Linked DNA regions of Homo sapiens. The protein of the gene in region 2 purifies or fractionates together with the protein of the main gene of each other region. This does not show direct contact. Each region holds a gene or a part of one and is shown on either strand. Other genes may lie near its edges. The genes, in order: INPP5B and PHETA2.

Region 1 (7,629 bases), on a different chromosome or scaffold from region 2:
TCGTTGGTCCCTAACACTGTGCTGGTGGTGCCCTGGCTAGGCACACTCCTCATGCCATCTCTGTCTGTGGTGCCCATCAGAGACTGCAGTTTTATGGATGAGGTCATCAAACCAGAACTTTTCTCATCTGCAGGAGCCCCTGATTGTTAGTAAAACACAAACACATGTTTGATCTAACCATGGTGCATTCTAGCACTGTGTGTGACAGGAACAGTGCAACCTTAGCTACCCACTTCTCTCCCTGAACCTGTTTCCCATCTGTAAAACTGGGGTGATGGATCAGAAAATGTCTAAGGCCCCCTCCCTCCCAGCTCCTAGACCCTGAGTCACTTACCAGCTATGAGACCTTTGACAACTATTACTCTCTCTCTGCTTCTGTGTGGTATGTGGGTGTTACTAGACAACATTTATGGAGCACTTTCTTTTTTTTATTTATTATATTTTTTAAATTATTTGAAATAGAGATAGGGGTCTCACTATATTGCCCAGGCTGGTCTTGAACTCAAGCAGTCCTCCCAGCTCAGACTCCCAAAGTGTTGGGATTACAGGCATGAGCCACTGCACCCAGCCTTATTGAGCACTTTCTACACACCCCATGGTGTTCGTTTTTTTTTTCTTGTTTTTTTTTTTATAGAGACAGGGTCTTGCTGTGTTGCCCAGGCTGCAATCGTAGTTCACTGTAATCTCAAACTCCTCGGCTCATGTGATCCTCCCGCCTCAGCCTCCTGAGTAGCTGAGACTACAGGCATGCACCACAACACCCAGCTAATTTTCTTATTTTTTGTAGAGATGGAGCCGGGGAGCGGGAGGTGGGGCGGGGTAGGGGGGGCGGTCTCGCTATGTTGCCCAAGCTGGTCTCGAACTCCTAGGCTCAAGCAATCTTCCTGCCTCAGCCTCCCAAAGTGTTGGAATTACAAGCATGAGCTACTGCACCTGGCCTAACTCACTTTACTCTTTAATATGGACAAATCGAGGAGTAAAACAACTTGCTCAAGATCATGTGGTTCCACCAGGTGCGGTGGCTCATGCCTAAAATTCCAACACTTTGGGAGGCTGAAGTGGGAGAATGACCTGAGGCCAGGAGTTCCAGCATGCAGCTATGAGTGCACTACTGCACTCCAGCCTGGGTGACAGAAAGAGACCCCGTCTCTAAAAAAAAGATCATGTGAGGCTGGGCACGCTGGCTCATGCCTGTAATCCTAGCACTTTGGGAGGCCAAGGCAGGTGGATAACTTGAGGTCAGGACTTCAAGACCAGCCTGGCCAACGTGGTGAAACCCTGTCTTTACTAAAAATACAGAAATGAGCCAGGCATGGTGGCGGGCACCTCTGTAATACCAGCTCCTCAAGAGGCTGAAGCACGAGAATTGCTTGGACCTGGGACGCAGAGGTTGCAGTGAGCCAAGATCACCCCACTGCACTCCAGCCTGGGCAAAGACCAAGACTCCTTCTCAAAACAAACAAACAATAGATCATGTGGCTTGTTAGTAACAAAGCCTGGGTTTGAACCCAGGCATTTGGACCACGAGGCTCAAGATCTGGACTAGTATGTTAAACTGTCTCTTCTCAAGAAACTTCCTCCTTAGATCTTGAGGATTATGAGTTAGTACGTGTGCAGGGTTTAAAATATAGTGTTCAAAAAATATTAACTATCATTGTGATAATTATTCTAGGAGACTCAGACCCTGCCCTGGAGGGACAGTTGAAGTTCAGCTGGAGGGTGCAGTGATGAACAACCCCATGGCCCAGACAGGTGGGGACCAAGCCCCTCACTCACGCGTGTTCCTGGCCGCCGTGCTCCAGGCGGTAGCGCACGAGTCCCAGGAGGCGGCTCTGCCGGCTGTCCCCCTCACACAGCACACCTTGCACCGCCTGCGGCTCAGAGTCAAGGGAAGACAACCCAGAGGCGAGGCCTCTCCCCACCCAGGCTGTCCCACCTTCCCTCTGTTCCCCTGCCCCCCCAGATTCACTGTGTGGCCTTGGGTGAGCACTCAAACCATGTGCTGAACTAACAGACAAACAGGCTCTCTAAGCCTTCCTTATCTATGAAATGAGGATAATAATCCCCAACTTCATAGGGAGTTAGGAGGATAACTGCGTATTTAAAGCATTTGGCTGAGAGTCCAGGACTCAGTAAGTACTTAGTAAATACTGATTTCCTTCTCCCCTGATGGTTCAGAGGGGCAGGAGAGGGGATAGACACCTCGACACCTTCCATTCCTCTTCCCAAGGCCAGGGCAGGCTCAGGGCCGCAGTTAGCACAGGAAGGATATGATGACGCAGTATTCCCCCTCAGCCAGCGTCTCCTGGATTGCCACAGACTGGTCCATGCTGGCCCCTGCTGAGCGCACACACCCTGTGGGAGGGGAGATAGGAGCCCCGCTTTGGTCAACAAGTTACGCATGGGGTGGTGGAGCTGCCTCAGAGGGGTTGGGGGCAGGAGGGAGGGGCCTTTGCAGAGGGAGATGGTACCGGGGAGGCCTGATCCTCCTCCTCCTCCTCTTTGTCCTCCCTAGAATAGGCCTTTCAGTTTTTAGGGATAGGGGTCCAGTCCCTTTGCCCCGCTGGGATCTACAGTTTGCTATACTGCCTTTGTCTGGGAGGGCATCCAGTTGCTCTTGAGTGTGGTCTATCCTTGTTGGAAGTGGGGTACGTGGATTGGAGAAGGGGACCTAGTCCCTTTGCTCCTAGGACATGGCTCTTCCTCTCTTTTGGGGACAGTTTTTGTTCTGCTAGCGCCTCTCTGGGAGGTGTCAGTGGTGTGTCCATGTGGGGTTCAGGGAACATCCCCTTACTGTCATTCAGGAGGGTCCCATTCCTCTTTCCTTGGAGACAGGAAGTGTCCCATTGCTGCTTGCCCTTCACCCCCGCCCCAGCAGGCCCATTGCATCAGCTGCAGGCCGGGGGTTGGGGGGTGTCCCAGCCCTCAGCTTGCCCACTCCCTCCTGCCCAGCCCTGCCCTGGCTTTCCTGCTCTGCTCCCACCCACAGCTCCCTGACATTGTCACCTACCTCCTGAGCTGTCACCACAGGGCGCACGGGACTCCGCTGCCCCAGGTTCCGGGACAGTGACTACATTTCCCAACAGCCCCTGCGCCACATGGTGGTCAGTCAGCCTGCAAGTCCCAGCATGCCCGAGTCAATCGTGGGGTGGGGAGTCTCTCCATCCGTGTTAACCCCTTAGGCCCTGGGGTACACTGGGCTTCCTATACCAGAAAGGTTTTCTAATGATTGCCCTCACTCCCATCCCCAGCCCTCTAGGTCATGGGGCCAGAGCTTCCCACCCAGAAGGAAGATGGTCACATTTTATCTTAGGGGAAGAATATAATGCATTTTTATTTTCTCCTTAGTTCCATCCTCAGCTCTTCTCACTCCAGGGTAGACAACCCGGACCTCTACTGAAACTCTTCCCCTAAAATAACTACCTTCTCCTGGTTTAATGGAGGGAGAACCAGACTATGAAGAACCATTATGTCCATTTTCCAGGTGGAGAAACTGAGCCTTGGATAGGTTAAGCAGTTTGACATTAAGTCCTGCAGCTAGCAGGTGGCAACACTGGGACTCCACTGAAAGTCTGACTGCAACTCCTGGGCCATTTATACCGCTACACACTGCCCTATTTCCTCCCTTAGCCCCACCCAGCCCTCCTGCCACACAGGGCTGTTTGAGGCTACTGGGTGTGAACGCACTTTATAAAGGGTATGACACTGTTCCTGTCCGGCAACGTCCTTCCCCTGATCCGCCTGGCTTTGTGACCTTGGCCAAGACCTTTCTTCCCTTGGGACTCAATTTCCCCATCTAAGATAAGGAGGTTACCCAAGATGGACAAAAAGAGCCAGCACAGGGACTGGGCACAGTGGCTCATGTCTGTAATCCCGGCACTTTGGAAGGCCAAGGAGGGAGGATCGCTTGAGGCCAGGAGTTTGAGACCCCATCTCTAAAAAAAAATTTTTTTAAATTTAGCCGGGTATGGTGGTGCATGCCTGTAGTCCCAGCTACTTGGGAGGCTGAGGTGGGAGGATTGCTTGAGCCCAGGAGTTCAAGGCTGCAGTGAGCTGTGATTGCTCACCCAGCTCAGATAAGGAATGCTAGGATCATTCTCACTTGGCCTATTGGCTGTTTAATTAAGCTGTAAGCTCCCGTTGGACAGGACTATGCCTTTTCATCAACATACCAGCAGTTTCTGGCACACAGTTATCTATGGAGTTAGTGAATTACTTTCTGAACTATTTTAATAAATACACCTTCTCTCAAGCTTTGGCCCAAACTGAAGGAATGGGCCTTCAGTGCTGGGGAGGGGGTGACTGTTGTGACTTGTGAACAGTTTCCCTTCCTCTTTCCCCAAGTGAAGTGGCCATCCTAATGACCAGTTCAACTTTGCATATGTAAACCCCTTCCAGAAACAGTCGTTGCCTTCTTCTCAATCCATTTCTTTTCCTGGAAACATCCACAGCACAAATGGAGCTCAAGTTTATTTGAATTCAGTGTCTAAGTCATGTGGACGATGAGGGGAAAGGGGATTGACTCAGACCCTTAGGATCAAGGGGTGGGGTCACTGCAGGGAAGCAGAGGAACCCCAATTCCAGCCCTGCTCTAGTGTCAAAGCCTGGCGAGGAGGGTCTGGGCAAAGTAGATGGGGCTGTGTGCTTTTTATGATGAAGAAACTGTCCCTGCAGGATTTGGGGGTCCTCCCACTGGGTGGGGGTCAGGCAGGAGGTTTTCTGTTTTTCCAGACAAACCCTATCCTCTCCCTGAGATTAGGGCTGAGGGCCTGCCCCCTTGGGGGGTTCCATGGTCAGGCCTAGGCCCTAGAAGGGGAGAAGTGAGGAGCCTTAAGCCCAGAGCTGTGGGCTTGATAAAGGCCTTTTACTAAAGATGCAACTACAGGAATCAGAGCTGGAGGGGGACCTGAAGGCTTGTAGATCCTACAGGGTCTTCTTGACTGCTGCTCCCAGATTCTGCTGGGCCCAGCTAGGGGAGCAGGAATAGGAGCAGAGCAGAGTGGAGGAGAAGTAGCATAGCCACAGCCAGGGCCCAGTGCAGGGGGTTTCTGGTGGCCCCAGGAGCTGCCTGGTTGAAGTGAAGTTTCCCATCCAGCTGAAGGCAGCTGCCTGAGGTTGAGGCTTGACAGCACTCCTGGTAGCAGGGTGGGGCCACAGCCCCATGACACTGGGAGGTCCCTGCTTCACAGGCCTGGCTGCAGCCTGCAATGTAACCTGAGCTGGAGCATTTCAGCTGCAAGAAGAGGTGGGACCATTCATCTTCCCCTTGCCCCTCTTCCCCACTCAAAGGCAGAAAGTGTTAAGTGGGTCATGGGTTGAGCTCAACCTCCTTGGACCCCTAGCTTCCTGCCCACAAGATCAGTGAGTTCCTAGTGAACATACAGGGTGGTCAGAAAAAAAGGGGCACATCGTGGAGGTATGGAAAATTCCAGTTGCTGCCTTTGGTGTTGGCATCATGCAGAGCTGAGGGGGTCAAGCTTGCTAGACCCCACGGCTGCTCCCAGCAGGTCTAGCTCCAGCCAGATTCTACTGCTGAGCTACCCACTCCAGGTAGAAGGAGAAAGCCATGCAGCTCTGAGGGAGGAGAGCTCCCTAATTCTTGGAGCATCGCAGGGCTCACCTCACAGAAGTCCAAGCCCTCAGGGCACATGGCCACAGCTTTCGGCCCTTTGAAACAGTCACCACCTTGGCAGGAGAAAGTAGCACAGATTTTCTTCTGGAAGAGAAAGCAGGAGGAGGTTTGGGAGCTCTGTGCAGACTGAACAGGTGGTAAATGCTGGACAGAGGCAAGGCTGGAGCCCTATCATGCCTGTGTCACTGGCCCCATCCACCACACGCTGTCCATTCCTGCCTCCACTTCCTAGAGGAGGCAGGTGAGAATGAGACACATTTCCCTGGAGGGCTGGCAAGGTGGTGGTCACCAGGGGTGGAATGGAATGTAGCTTGTCCTCTGGGATCGTCGGGTGGGCTAGGCCTAGGAGCAGAGCAGGACTGCCTGGGGAAGTGCTGTGACACCTCTGTAAAGCCCTGACCCCCTGCCTTGCCCCCAGGGAGAGCATGATGTGTGTGGGCAGCTCACAACCTGACATCTCCCCCACCACGGCCTAGATGAGCACAGGTGCTTGCCCCAGGCCTCTTTGTAGCTTGTTGGGGAGGGGAGTGCTGGATGGGCTGGACTGGGGAATGGTGGGGATGTTAGGAGTGGGGAATCTGAGAGGGGGTGGGGCACCAAAGGTAGAAAGCTCAGACTTGGGGAGCTAATGAGGAAGGCAGAGTTTTTTTTTTTGTTTTTTTTTTTTGTGGTGAGGTGGAGTCTCTCTCTGTCGCCCAGGCTGGAGTGCAGTGGTGAGATCTTGGCTCAGTGCAAGCTCCGCCTCCCAGGTTCATGCCATTCTCCTGCCTCAGCCTACAGAGTAGCTGGGACTACAAGCGCCCAGCACCACCATGCCCGGCTAATTTTTTGTATTTTTAGTAGAGATGGGGTTTCACCATGTTAGCCAGGATGGTCTCGATCTCCTGACCTCATGATCCACCTGCCTTGGCCTGTCTCGATCTCCTGACCTCATGATCCACCCGCCTTGGCCTCCCAAAGTGCTGGGATTACAGGCATGAGCCACCATGCCTGGCCTAGGAAGACATTAAAGGTAAGGGTCAGGGCCGGGCGCCGTGACTCATGCCTGTTATCCCAGCACTTTGGGAGGCCGAGGCGGGTGGATCACGAGGTCAGGAGATCGAGACCATCCTGGCTAACATGGTGAAACCCCGTCTCTACTAAAAAAATACAAAAAATAAGCCAGGCATGGCGGCGGGCGCCTGTAGTCCCAGCTACTCGGGAGGCTGAGGCAGGAGAATTGGGTGAGCCCGGGAGGCGGAGCTTGCAGTGAGCCGAGATCGCGCCACTGCATAAGCCTGGGTGACAGAGCAAGACTCTGTCTCAAAAAAACAAAAGAAAAAAAGGTAGGGGTCAGTCAGAAAAGGCCTAGAGGTTAGCATATTCATAGAGGTTGGGGGGGCTGGTGAAAATTGAGCTGAGATTTGAGGGCCTCTCAAAGGGCTGGGTTCAAAGTTGAGGGTTAGTGTGCAGAAGGGCTCTGAGCTTGTGGATGAGTAGGAATGGGAGTCAGAGGTGGGGGCTCTGAGGAATGGGGCTGGGAGCTGCAGGTTGGCGGGGCAGGGCTGAGTATTAAGGGTGGGGCTGTCTCACCCCAGGCTGACTCATTGAGCACGAAACAGAGTGGCCCTCCATTGCAGCACTGCAGCCTGCAGGGGTCTGGGCTGGGGGCTGAGCTATTGGACAGCAGACAAGGGCTAGGACCGGTTTCATTTCCCCCTTCACAGCTGAAGCTGCACCAGGCCATGTAGTGGGAAGCGTTGAGTTGAATCAGCTGGGTAGAGAGAATGCAGGCATGTCCAGGAGGATGGGGGCACAGCCAGGCCTGGGCCATAGCTCCACGTTCCCAGCATCCCAGATACTGACTCCTCTCCCTCCCGCTTCAGGATCTGTTCCTGCACCTTACTGTACCTGAATGTCAATCCCCCTTCCAATGGCCTCCCTCCACTCTCCTTCACCTCTGAGAAGTACCCTGGCTTGGGTCCCTCACAGCCCCAGCCCCACACCTCGCAGTGGTG
Region 2 (2,980 bases):
AAAATGGCGCCGCTGCGGGTAACGATGACTGACCTCGACGGTACCAGGCTCCGGCCTGAGCCGCTCCATGCGGCGGAGACATCGCCATCTTTCCTCAAGCTAGGCCCGCTCCGGAGAGCCCCGGACCTGACGGGTGCCAATACTAGCCAGCGAGCCGCTCCGGACGCCATGCCCCCAGCTCCGCCCCTCACCCGGGCACCCGCACCCCACCGCCCAGCCCTCGTGCCGCCCTCGGGAAGAAAGCCGCCCGAAGCCTCGCGAGAGTTTGAGGAGTACACGAGAAGCCCAGCCCTCCCACTCGCGCAGTGCCGGCGGCTCCTGGGGCGGCGGGAGGGAGGTGTTTGTCACTGGCCGGCATGGTGGCGTCACGAGAGTGGCGGCGCAGCCCCGGCTCCCTCAGTCCGCGTCCTGCTGGGCGTGGCCGCGGTCTTGGGTCCGCCCGGCCGTCAGAACAGGCCTCAGCGGCCGGTTGTGGAAATAAACCCAGGGAGCGGAAGGAGTAATAACGAAAAAGCTTTACTAGTGTTTTAACCGTGTACAAAACACTGTAGCAATAAGAGAAAGGCCCGTGCTATCTGTGTTTAAACAAAATGCAGTGGCTGCGGGGCTTCCAGGCAGGGCTGGGGAACAGGCCGGGCGCCCGCCTTGGGCGCATCTCCGCCTCTTAGGGGTAAGAGGCTCAGAGCCTACCCCTTAGGCCTAGTTGGATGCGGGTCGGTCCTGCCCAAGGCCCCAGTGAGGGGAGCCGAGGCTAGGAAGGGGCAAGTTTTATGTGTTTGGGAGGGGGTGTCTCTTCCCGGCCTCTGCGTCTTCCCCCTGGAGCGTCAGTATGGTCAGGCTCTGGTGACCCAGCCGCTTTGCCTCCCGACTTTGGGAAGAGTAGCAAGGAGAGGTCCTGGCAAGTACACCCTGGGTGACAAACGGCTATGAGAGTTCCCAGGTGATTTCTCGAGCAGCTTCAGTTTACCGGAGCCCAGCCAGGAGAGAGAATTTTAGCACAGGAAACGCAATCCCGTGTCCAAGCTCCTAGAATACCCAGGACTGAGAACCAAAGCAACAGACTTTTCCCAGGGAGCCACACTGCCTCCCCACCTCTTCTTTAACCCCTCACTTGGCAGCTCCAGGAGTTGGCTGCTGAAGACAGAGTACAGGAGGGCATTTCGTTGACGTAAAAAAGCTACAAGCCCCTTCCGGGGCAAGGTCCAGCACCATCTGTTAACAGGGCAGCCAGGGAGAAAGGATGGGACCCCAGCACTCTGAGCAGAATAAATCTCTCTTCACTGGCCGAAGACCCTCTGCCTCAAAGGGCCCTACCCAGACTGCTGAGTGAGGATCCCATCCCCAATCTTCCCACCCCTCTCAGGAAGAGCTGGGTCCCAGAAACTCCTATGACACAATAAATCCACTTTCTCTGACAGTGTCAGAGCTTCAAGCCGATACTGCAGCCTACCTCGGATTTAAGTGCACAGGAGACTCCCCAGGTTGGAAATTATGGCTCTAGAGCCCGGTGTGTAGGCCAAAGGTATGGCAAGCCTGTGACAGTCTCGGGTGACATTCCCCACTTCCTTCATTTCATTAACATCCCCTGGGAGGGGGCAGTCAGGCCAGTGCAGTCAGGAGATTGGGGTCTTGCTCTGTGGCTGCTAAGTCTCCTTCCTTCTCTGGACCTCAGGAAATAAAGAGGATGGAAGGAATGGTCCCGCAGTCCCTTCCAGACACACGGGTGGATCTCGAACCTGGAGAATGCCTAAATAGCAGGAAGGAGAGAACCCATGTCCCCTCCCAAAACGCAACCTTGGAAATGGGTAAACATTTAACTCCTGAAAAAGAACTGGCCCTGGTTTCCTGACTCAAAGGGCCCAGACTTAGGGCCTATCCTGTTCCTCACATTTTGAGTGGCTCCCCTGGGCCCTCTTCTGCCAACACTGCCGCAGCTCCACGATCTCCTGGCCATACCAGTCATGCAGGGTAGAGAAGCAGGAGGTCTCAGGGGACACAGGGCTCTGCCCCTTGCCTAGGAGGAGGCTGGCAGGGCCCTGCAGCTCCCACTCAGCCAACCCCCACCCTGCAGACCTGCTGCCCGCTTCTTCAACCAAGCCCACAGGGCTGCTGTCCTTGGAGAGGCAGTGGCCATTCTCCAGGCCCGCAGCTCGGTGGTTAGGAGCCTGGGGCTTACAGCGGCTGGCAACAGACTTCCAGGATGAGCGGCGTTGCAAAGCCAGGCTCTGGCGTGCGTCCTGCAACTGGCTCTCCAACTCGCGTACCACCAGGCGCATGTAGCCAAAGCTTGCCCGGGACAGCACCTTCACCCAGGCCTCCTGGGCCGCCGGCCCTTCTGCGGCCAGCAGGTGTGGGCGCACTCCAGGGGCATCAAAGCAGATGGCAAAGGCAAACTCCTCGGGCACGGGAGCCTCGGCCAGTTCCACTGTGCAGCCTTCCAGCACCACCAGGCTCAGTGGGGCCCGGCCCTCGCGACTCTCAAAGGAGAATAGCAGGTTGCCCTTGAGGACAAACCAGCATCTTCGGCCAGTGCCACTGGGGGTCGGTGGGGTCCCTGGGCCCCCCCAGGTGCGCAGGAAGCCCATGTGGTCCGCTGGGGAGTCGCTGAGTGCATAGTGGGCTACACTCCTCTCGTTCAGCTTCATGGCTCCCACGGGAACTGTGAGGCAAGAGAGATGGCAGCAGATCAGAGAGGGAGGTGGTTCCGTGCCCTCCTGGGGAACAGCACCGGCTCCAGAGGCAACCTGGACCCCAGCCCTGGGACTCCTACTCGCTTGCTGTGTCCCTAAGGTCCCTAAAGTCTCCTGAGAAGTGGGCTCGTCTTTCCTTCCTTTTCTCTCAAAGGGATGTCGTGAGGATCATGCAAAAAAAACTGGACACTGGCGGACTTCGAGAAAAGAATAACGAGATTGCATCAGACAGGAGGCATGGCAGGACCTGGGCACGGCTTTCTAAAATCCAAAGAAACAGGCCCCAGCTG

Evidence for each region.
Region 1: the proteins of PHETA2 (region 2) and INPP5B purify together in Homo sapiens (affinity purification with mass spectrometry; 2 studies listed by BioGRID and IntAct, with this or other methods). This does not show direct contact.

Annotation. Positions count from the first base shown.
Region 1 is NC_000001.11:37,943,980-37,951,608, forward strand, and holds the start of INPP5B (type II inositol 1,4,5-trisphosphate 5-phosphatase isoform 1 precursor), read right to left. Parts: upstream 3,075-7,629; 5' UTR 3,011-3,074; intron 2,891-3,010; exon of another isoform or gene 2,801-2,890; coding exon of another isoform or gene 2,795-2,800; intron 2,356-2,794; coding exon of another isoform or gene 2,330-2,355; coding exon 2,273-2,329; intron 1,872-2,272; coding exon 1,777-1,871; exon of another isoform or gene 1,673-1,776; intron 1,649-1,672; exon of another isoform or gene 1,300-1,648; intron 1-1,299. UniProt on the Homo sapiens protein: Hydrolyzes phosphatidylinositol 4,5-bisphosphate (PtIns(4,5)P2) and the signaling molecule phosphatidylinositol 1,4,5-trisphosphate (PtIns(1,4,5)P3), and thereby modulates cellular signaling events.
Region 2 is NC_000022.11:42,076,959-42,079,938, reverse strand, and holds the end of PHETA2 (sesquipedalian-2), read right to left. Parts: intron 2,660-2,980; 5' UTR 2,646-2,659; coding exon 1,866-2,645; 3' UTR 501-1,865; downstream 1-500. Other genes in the region: SMDT1 (essential MCU regulator, mitochondrial precursor), read right to left, coding at 1-170. UniProt on the Homo sapiens protein: Plays a role in endocytic trafficking. Required for receptor recycling from endosomes, both to the trans-Golgi network and the plasma membrane.